Linked DNA regions of Homo sapiens. The protein of the gene in region 1 purifies or fractionates together with the protein of each later gene. This does not show direct contact. Each region holds a gene or a part of one and is shown on either strand. Other genes may lie near its edges.

What was found.
Region 2: the proteins of ZNF280A (region 1) and NUCB2 purify together in Homo sapiens (affinity purification with mass spectrometry; 2 studies listed by BioGRID and IntAct, with this or other methods). This does not show direct contact.

Annotation. Positions count from the first base shown.
Region 1 is NC_000022.11:22,513,217-22,517,564, reverse strand, and holds the end of ZNF280A (zinc finger protein 280A), read left to right. Parts: intron 1-1,863; 5' UTR 1,864-1,934; coding exon 1,935-3,563; 3' UTR 3,564-3,829; downstream 3,830-4,348. UniProt on the Homo sapiens protein: May function as a transcription factor.
Region 2 is NC_000011.10:17,328,688-17,332,973, forward strand, and holds the end of NUCB2 (nucleobindin-2 isoform 1 preproprotein), read left to right. Parts: intron 1-1,439; coding exon 1,440-1,610; intron 1,611-2,214; coding exon 2,215-2,296; intron 2,297-2,724; coding exon 2,725-2,732; 3' UTR 2,733-3,524; downstream 3,525-4,286. UniProt on the Homo sapiens protein: Calcium-binding protein which may have a role in calcium homeostasis. Acts as a non-receptor guanine nucleotide exchange factor which binds to and activates guanine nucleotide-binding protein (G-protein) alpha subunit GNAI3.

The DNA.
Region 1 (4,348 bases):
TATTTGACAAAACTTTTGTTTCAATTTACACACACATACACACAGGTTTACCTTCTCCCTTGTACAACAGTATTAAATCATTTGGATTTGGATTTCATTAAATGCTTAGAGAATCTGGAATAATGGATTAGAGCCTCTGGTACACCTAAATGATCATATTAATAACAGCTACTATTTATTTAACAAAGATTTAGCATGCACAGTATGACAGACATTGCTCTATAAGCTGAGGAGTAAATGAAACACAACTCCCTGCCCTCGTGTGGCATACAGTTTAGTGGGTAAACACAGAAAAGAAACAAGTTATATTTTTAAATTTTTTGTAGAGATGGGTCTTGCTATGTTGCCCAGGCTGGTCTCGAGCTCCTGACCTCAAGCAATCCTTCCGCCTTGGCCTTACAAAGTGTTGGGATTACAGGTACGAGCCACTGCACCTGTCCCATTTTTTGTTGTTGTTTTAAGACACAGAGTCTTCCTTTCCTCTGTCACCCAGGCTGGATGCAGTGACATGATATATCTCACTGTAATCTCAAACTCCTGGGCTTGCAAGATATATTTTACATATTGTGTGGTAGGCAGTGATAAATGCTAAGTTGAAAAATAACATTGAGGGTTTGAACATATGAGTTAAGGAGGTTGTGATTTTTGATATTGTGGTCAGGTAAGCCTTGCTGAAGAGGAACCATGGGACTGAGGCAGACCAGGAGCCCAGATGGGGTTAATCTGGGGAAAGAGGCACGCAACGTCCGGGAACAACAAAAGTTCTGAAAAAGAAAAAGGCCTGCTGTGTTCCAGATTCACGGAGCTCAGGATGGCTGCATCAGAGCAACAGAGGAGTTAGCAAGGGCGATGATGACCTAAGGTTCCATGGGGAAATTTAAAGTTTGCTGGTATTTCCTATGAATGAAATGGAAAGTCATTGAAGACTTAAGAGCGAAATATACTTGCTCCCCTGTATATTTTAACAGGGGCATTGGGGCCACCATGGGGAGATCTGACAAAACTTTTAAGACTGGCAACTTCTGCAGTGATCCAGGGAGAGAACATGGTACCTTCCATCAGGGAGGTGGCAGTAGATGTGGAAGAGAGTAGTCAGATTCTGGATATCTTTAAAAGATAGAGCAGACTAGCTTTGCTAATTGATTGGCTGTAGTGTATGAGAGAAAGTCTGGCAAAGGATGACTCTGAAGTTTGTAGACTGAGCAACTGAGTTTACTGAGAAAAGGAACATTACAGGAACAGCAAAGGGTGTGTGTGTGTGTGTGTGCTGTGATTTGTGTGTGTGTGTGTTTGTGTGATGGGGTCTCATTTGGTTGCCCAGGCTGGAGTGCAGTGGCATGAACATAGCTTTGAAGTCCTGGGCTCAAGTGTTCCTCTTGGCTCAGCCTCCCAAGTAGCTGGGACCACAGGTGTGTACCACCATGCCAAGCTAATTTTTTTTAATTTTTAAATTTTTTTGTAGAGATGGGGTCTTGCTATGTTGCCCAGGCTAGGAGCAGAATGTTTTTGAGAGAAGTTTTGTTCAAGTTGGTTAGAAACCTTAGACATCTGAGAGAGTACCTGTGGGATGAGGAGGAGGTGAGTGAGGCATCTAGAGTGCAAAATTTAGAGGCAAGCACTCTGAGATGTTCCATCTGCACCTCCTGAAATCTTGCTTCCTTTGCCTCACAACTGCAGAAGACCAGGGGAGGAGAGACAGGTAAATTTGAAATTATTATGCCATTTAAAATGTTTCAAGCCTCATTTCTGACGTGTAAAATAGAGATGTTGATGGTTATCTCAGTGTTTTAAGGGAGGATACAATAAAGTAATGATTTTGTCTTTCGAAATAAATATTGACTATTGTCACATGGTTGCACTTAGGTGGCAATTTGTAAAAAGACAGCTCTGGAAGTTGAAGAGACCAGTGGCTTCAAGCAAAAAGTAAATTGAAAATGGGAGATATCTTTTTGTGTAAGAAAGTGGAATCACCAAAGAAGAATTTGAGAGAATCCAAACAAAGGGAGGAGGATGATGAAGATCCAGATCTGATCTATGTTGGGGTGGAGCATGTACATAGAGATGCTGAAGTTCTCTTTGTCGGGATGATTTCAAATTCAAAACCAGTCGTTTCAAACATTTTGAACAGAGTCACCCCAGGCTCAAATTCAAGAAGAAAGAAAGGCCACTTCCGTCAATATCCTGCTCACGTGTCGCAGCCTGCAAATCATGTGACCTCTATGGCAAAAGCCATCATGCCGGTTTCTCTGTCTGAGGGGCGATCGACAGATAGTCCTGTCACTATGAAGTCTTCATCTGAACCTGGTTATAAAATGAGCTCACCACAAGTTGTTTCTCCCAGTTCCTCAGACTCGCTCCCCCCAGGGACTCAGTGTCTAGTTGGAGCTATGGTCTCTGGAGGAGGCAGAAATGAGAGTTCTCCTGATTCAAAGCGACTTTCCACTTCAGATATAAACAGCAGAGATTCCAAAAGGGTTAAACTCAGGGATGGAATCCCAGGGGTACCTTCTTTAGCTGTGGTCCCTTCAGATATGTCTTCTACAATAAGCACAAATACACCCTCACAGGGGATCTGCAACTCATCAAACCATGTTCAGAATGGAGTAACATTTCCTTGGCCTGATGCTAATGGAAAGGCACATTTCAATCTTACAGATCCAGAGAGAGCAAGTGAGTCTGCCCTGGCAATGACAGACATTTCAAGTCTAGCAAGTCAAAACAAGACCTTTGATCCCAAGAAAGAAAATCCCATCGTGTTACTTAGCGACTTTTACTATGGACAGCATAAAGGAGATGGGCAGCCGGAACAGAAGACTCACACCACCTTTAAATGCCTCAGCTGCGTGAAAGTTCTAAAAAATATTAAGTTTATGAATCACATGAAGCATCATTTGGAATTTGAGAAGCAGAGGAACGACAGCTGGGAAGACCACACCACCTGCCAGCACTGCCACCGGCAGTTTCCCACTCCCTTCCAGCTACAGTGTCACATTGATAGTGTACACATCGCCATGGGGCCCTCTGCTGTCTGTAAAATCTGTGAATTGTCATTTGAAACAGATCAGGTCCTCTTACAACACATGAAGGACCATCATAAGCCTGGCGAAATGCCTTATGTGTGCCAGGTTTGCCATTACAGATCGTCGGTCTTTGCTGATGTGGAAACACATTTTAGAACGTGCCATGAAAACACAAAGAATTTGCTTTGTCTGTTTTGTCTCAAACTTTTCAAAACTGCAATACCATACATGAATCATTGTTGGAGGCACAGCAGAAGGAGGGTCCTTCAGTGTTCCAAGTGCCGGCTACAGTTTTTGACGTTGAAGGAGGAAATAGAGCACAAAACCAAGGACCATCAAACATTTAAAAAGCCGGAGCAACTGCAAGGGTTGCCTAGTGAAACAAAAGTTATTATTCAAACTTCAGTTCAGCCAGGATCAAGTGGTATGGCTTCCGTTATTGTTAGCAACACTGACCCTCAGTCTTCTCCTGTAAAAACTAAAAAGAAGACGGCTATGAACACTAGAGATTCCAGACTCCCTTGCAGCAAGGATTCTAGCTGAAAATATGTTCGACTGACTTCCAGGAGTTCCGAAAGGCAGAAGTGAGGCTAGGCCATATGTGCATTGTGGCTGTAGATGCTAGCAAGCAATGTCATCAACTGTCAGGTTGTTTTTTACAGTGACATCTCATCAGCTCCCTATTGTCAAGAAGTAGCTCCAAAGTCTTTGAGCCCTTTCCCAGTCAAATGCTCCCAACAGGGCATCCCTTATTCTGACCTCAGAGGTTTTTCTTGTTCATGAACTTTAAATAAATGGAATCACACAAAGATTCTTGTCTTTGGCTTTTTAAAATAAGTGAGATGGCTGGGTGTGATGGCTCATGCCTGTAATCCCAGCACTTTGGGAGACTGAGGTGGGTGGATCACTTGGGGTCAGAAGTTTGAGACCAGGCTGGCCAACATAGTGAAACCCCTTCTCTGCATAAAATAGAAAAATTAGCCAAGCGTGGTGGTGGGCGCCTGTAGTCCCAGCTACTCGGGAGGCTGAGGCAGGAGAATCGCTTGAACCTGGGAGGGGGGAGTTTGCACTGAGCTGAGATCGCGCCACTGCCCTCCAGCCTGGGTGACAGAGCATGACTGTCTCAAAATAAAGTAAAATGAAATAAAATAAGTGAGATGCATTTTTGCTGTGTGTAGCAGTAGCACATTCTTTTTCATTGCTGGGTAGAATTTTGTTGAGTGACTGTGGCAGTTTTGTATAAATTTATTTCACTGTTGATGGACTTTGAGGCTGATTCTTTGGCAATTTTGAATAAAGCTGCTATGAGCTTGTGCGTGTCTTTTGGT
Region 2 (4,286 bases), on another chromosome or scaffold:
CCTTCAGGGAAGTGGGCTCCCCTCTGGCCCAAGGCGAGTCCAGAAATGCTGTCCAAGAGCCAAGGCCTGGACTCAGGGACTCCAAAAGACTGCTTGTTGGTCTACCCCATTGTGGCTGAGCTGGTACCTAGGGTGCAAGACAAAAATCGCCTTTACTTTCCCTCTGCTTTCCTCAAACAGGGGTCTCTCGCCATAGCCACTACAGCTGGGAATGTGCTGGGTCACCCCGAAGCCAGCATGTCTCAGTCCAAGACCCACAGCATACTCCATGGGTCTTGCCGCTGATTATTCAGGGCCCAGGGGCTCTTTACTTAGCAAGTGATGAAGCCTGCCAGGACTGCTCCCTTAAGGCAGCAGTTTCCTTTTGGGCCAGCAGGGTATGTCTAGAAATGTCACCTGGGAGCTAGGGCCTGGAATCAGGTCCTCACAACTCTGCCTGGTGTCCTATCCTACTATGGCTTAGCTGGTATCCAAGATGCAAAACAAAGCCCTCTTTACTTTTTCCTCTCCTTTCCTCAAGAAAGGAGTCACTTTCATAGCCACAAGCTGCACTGCCTGAGGTTGGGGGAGGGGTAGCACAAGCGTTCCCTTAGCCTCACCAGCTGGTATCTCCCCTGGTCACCTGCTACCCTAGTTCACTGGCTCTAAGCCCAGCCTAGCACTAGGAGTTGCCTAGGAATTACAGTCCTCCTTTCCTAGACTGCCTTTCAAGTTTACCTAGGACCCCAGAGCACTTCAGCCCGCATGGTGAGGCCTGCCAGGAAATTCAGTGCCCATTGCTGGGATGGGTGATTCTCCTCTGGCTAGGGCTGCTTCAAATGCTCCTATGCATGGGCAGTGGTGGAGCCCAGCACAGCTTTATTCTCTGCTGTGACAGGGCAGCACTGAGTTCAATGTAAAGTCCCCCAGTCGCTATGCTCCCTCCCCAGAGGGCACAGACTCTCTGTGCTGCAGGTCTGCCACGAGGGAATGGGAGAGAGGTGGCATAGGTGATTCAAGACTGTCTCTTTTGCCCTTCTCAGTGTCTTTGCAGGTGATATGAAGTTGAAACCAGGTACTGTGAGTGCTCACCTGATGTTTGCTTCTTGTGCTTTTCTGTGTGCAGACAGCTGTTAAAATTTCATGTTTCAGTGAGGGTTGGGGGGAATGACAAATTTTATTTCTCTTCCCACGTTCTCTTTGCCTCTTCTACCCAGTTCTCACTCTTTGCCTTTAGTTGTCAATCCCAGAAGAGAATCTCTTGAGTTTTTCTTCCTGTTTTTCCTTTTGTTCAAATGAGTACATAAATATATATTACTTATTTCCCCTTCCTTCTTACCTCCAAAGGCGTAATCCTATAGATACTCTTTTATACTTTGCTAACCATAGAATTTTAAAGCTAAATCAGACTTTATTGTTGTAGTTTTGAGATTATTCTTTCCTCATTTTTTTTCTTTTAGACATTAGATCAGCAACAGTTCTTCACAGAGGAAGAACTAAAAGAATATGAAAATATTATTGCTTTACAAGAAAATGAACTTAAGAAGAAGGCAGATGAGCTTCAGAAACAAAAAGAAGAGCTACAACGTCAGCATGATCAACTGGAGGCTCAGAAGCTGGAATATCATCAGGTGGCATTTTGTCAAAAGATTATGGCATTAAAAAGATTTTAGGTGCTTTGTTAAAAGCCTGTGTTTTTGTAACATATTTCATTGTACTATATAGTACACTGCTATAGCTATACTATAGTATTTTAAATTTTAATACTTTAAAACTGTTTTGTGGAATATTAATCTAAATTTTATTTTATTTCATTTTATTTTATTTTGAGACAGCCTGTCTCCCAGGCTGGAGTATAGTGCTGTGATCATAGCTCACTGCAGCCTCAAACTCCTGGGCTCAAGTGATCCTCCCACCTCAGCCTCCCCAGTAGCTAGGACTACAGGTGCATGCCAGTGTTCCTGGCTAATGTTAATATTTTTTGTAGAGACCAGGTCTCATTGTGTTGCCGAGGCTGGTCTCGAACTCCTGGCCTTAAGTGATCTTCCCACCTGGGCCTCTGAAATTGTTGGGACTATAGGCGTGAGCCACTGCACCTAGTCAAATCTAAATCTTATAGTTTGAATATCTTTGTTTTAGAAAACAATTTTCATTTACTTTGTTGTGCTTTGTCAAAGGTCACACATATGATAGAAAATCAAGTTATACTTTTAACTTTCATTTTCCATTCACCAGGTCATACAGCAGATGGAACAAAAAAAATTACAACAAGGAATTCCTCCATCAGGGCCAGCTGGAGAATTGAAGTTTGAGCCACGTGTGTAATTTTGTTTGATTATTTATTTAGGAAAATAAATTATTTTATCAATTGAAATCCACATTTATTACAAATATAATTTCAAATCATTAAGATGTTATGTTATTTTTTGTGTATTTTTTGTGGTATTAGAGCAATTTAGATTATAGAAAAATGAAAATGCCTCCAAAAGTTTTATGTAGCAGCAAATTTTAAGTGCTGTATCATTTGTATAATTTGATAACCATATTTATGGTAAAATGATTTATTTCAACTTTATTTGTAATTCTTTCTAATTATATTAATCTTACCAGAGAATATGTTTTTTAAAATTGTGATCTATGATTAGCTAAGCATATTTTTTAAAACAAGTATATTTGTATATGAAGGAACATTTAGAATAAAGGAAGATACTTTTAAAATAAGAACTTTTTTCTTTTTTCCAACAGACATTTAAAGTCTGAAGTCCACCAGAACTTGGAAGAAAGCTGTTAACTCAACATCTATTTCATCTTTTTAGCTCCCTTCCTTTTTCTCTGCTCAATAAATATTTTAAAAGCATATTTGAAATAAAGGGAGATACTTTTTAAATGAAAACACTTTTTTTGGGACACAGATATTAAAGGATTGAAGTTTATCAGAACCAGGAAGAAAACAAACTCACTGTCTGCTCTCTGCTCTCACATTCACACGGCTCTTTTATTTATTTTTTTGTTCTCCTTTAATGATTTAATTAAGTGGCTTTATGCCATAATTTAGTGAAACTATTAGGAACTATTTAAGTGAGAAAACTCTGCCTCTTGCTTTTAAATTAGATTGCTCTCACTTACTCGTAAACATAGGTATTCTTTTATGGGTGCTTATCATTCCTTCTTTCAATAAATGTCTGTTTGATATTAACAATTCTGGAAAGGCCACAGTATTTCCCTGTGTTTCCTGGTAACGTTTTTCTAGTTTTGGCAACCTCAACTGCTAGAAATTCTTCACCTGAATCACTTTTGCTACCACTTCAGGTCATTTTTCATTCTTTTTTATTTTGCTCTATACTTTATCATTTAAGATTAGGTTATGTTACATATAACAGAAAAAACAAAGATAACAGTGGTTTAAACTAAATAGGAGTTTTTCTTCTTACATAAGTCTAGAAGTAGGTGGTGTCCAGGTTCCTATCTTTCTGCTCTGCTATCCTCAGTGCATGATTTTTATCCTCAGATTACCTCACTCTCACTGTTCAAGTTTGCTCCTGGAGGCAGTGGGGAAGGCAAGAAAACTGGACTTTCTCTGCTTGAGTTAGCTTCCCTGAGGCCATTTTCCAGAACCAGCAGCACCTGAACTTATGTTTCGACCAGAACTGGGTCACACTGATGGCCACACCTAGCTGCTAGGGAGGCTGAGAAGTCAATGTGGCAATGTGACCAGCTAAAAGTTGGATTCTTTTACTAAGGAAGAAGGGAAGAGGGAATGTTTGGTAGGCAACTTTGGATTTTAAACTCAGCCAGCCTTGTTGGCTACCTAAATTCTGTGTACCTTCTTCTTCCGAGAGAGAAAACACTCACCCCTCTCTCCCTGAAGAGAAACCACCAGAAATCCAGCCCATTATTGCATACTAGATGAAAGACCATGCTATCTGGAGACAGTCCCCTCCATCATGTTAGGGTGTGGCTCCTTGTGTTCTGGCCACCTACAAACTGAAAGACAAGTTTTCTGCCCTGAGAGCACCAGATGCATAATGCAAAGGTGCAGGAAAACTGACCTTTTAAATTTTTTAGAGACAGGGTCTTACTCTGTTGTCCAGTCTAGAGTACAGTGGTGTGATCATAGCTTACTGCAGCCTTGAACTTCTGGGCTCAAGTGATCCTTCCACCTCAGTCCCCCTAGTAGCTAGGACTACAGGCACATGCCACGAACGCCTGGCTAAACATTTTTTTTTGTAGAGATGGAGTATTGCTATGTTGCTCAGGCTGGTCTTAAACTCCTGGTCTCAAGCAATCTTCTCACCTCAGCCTCCCAA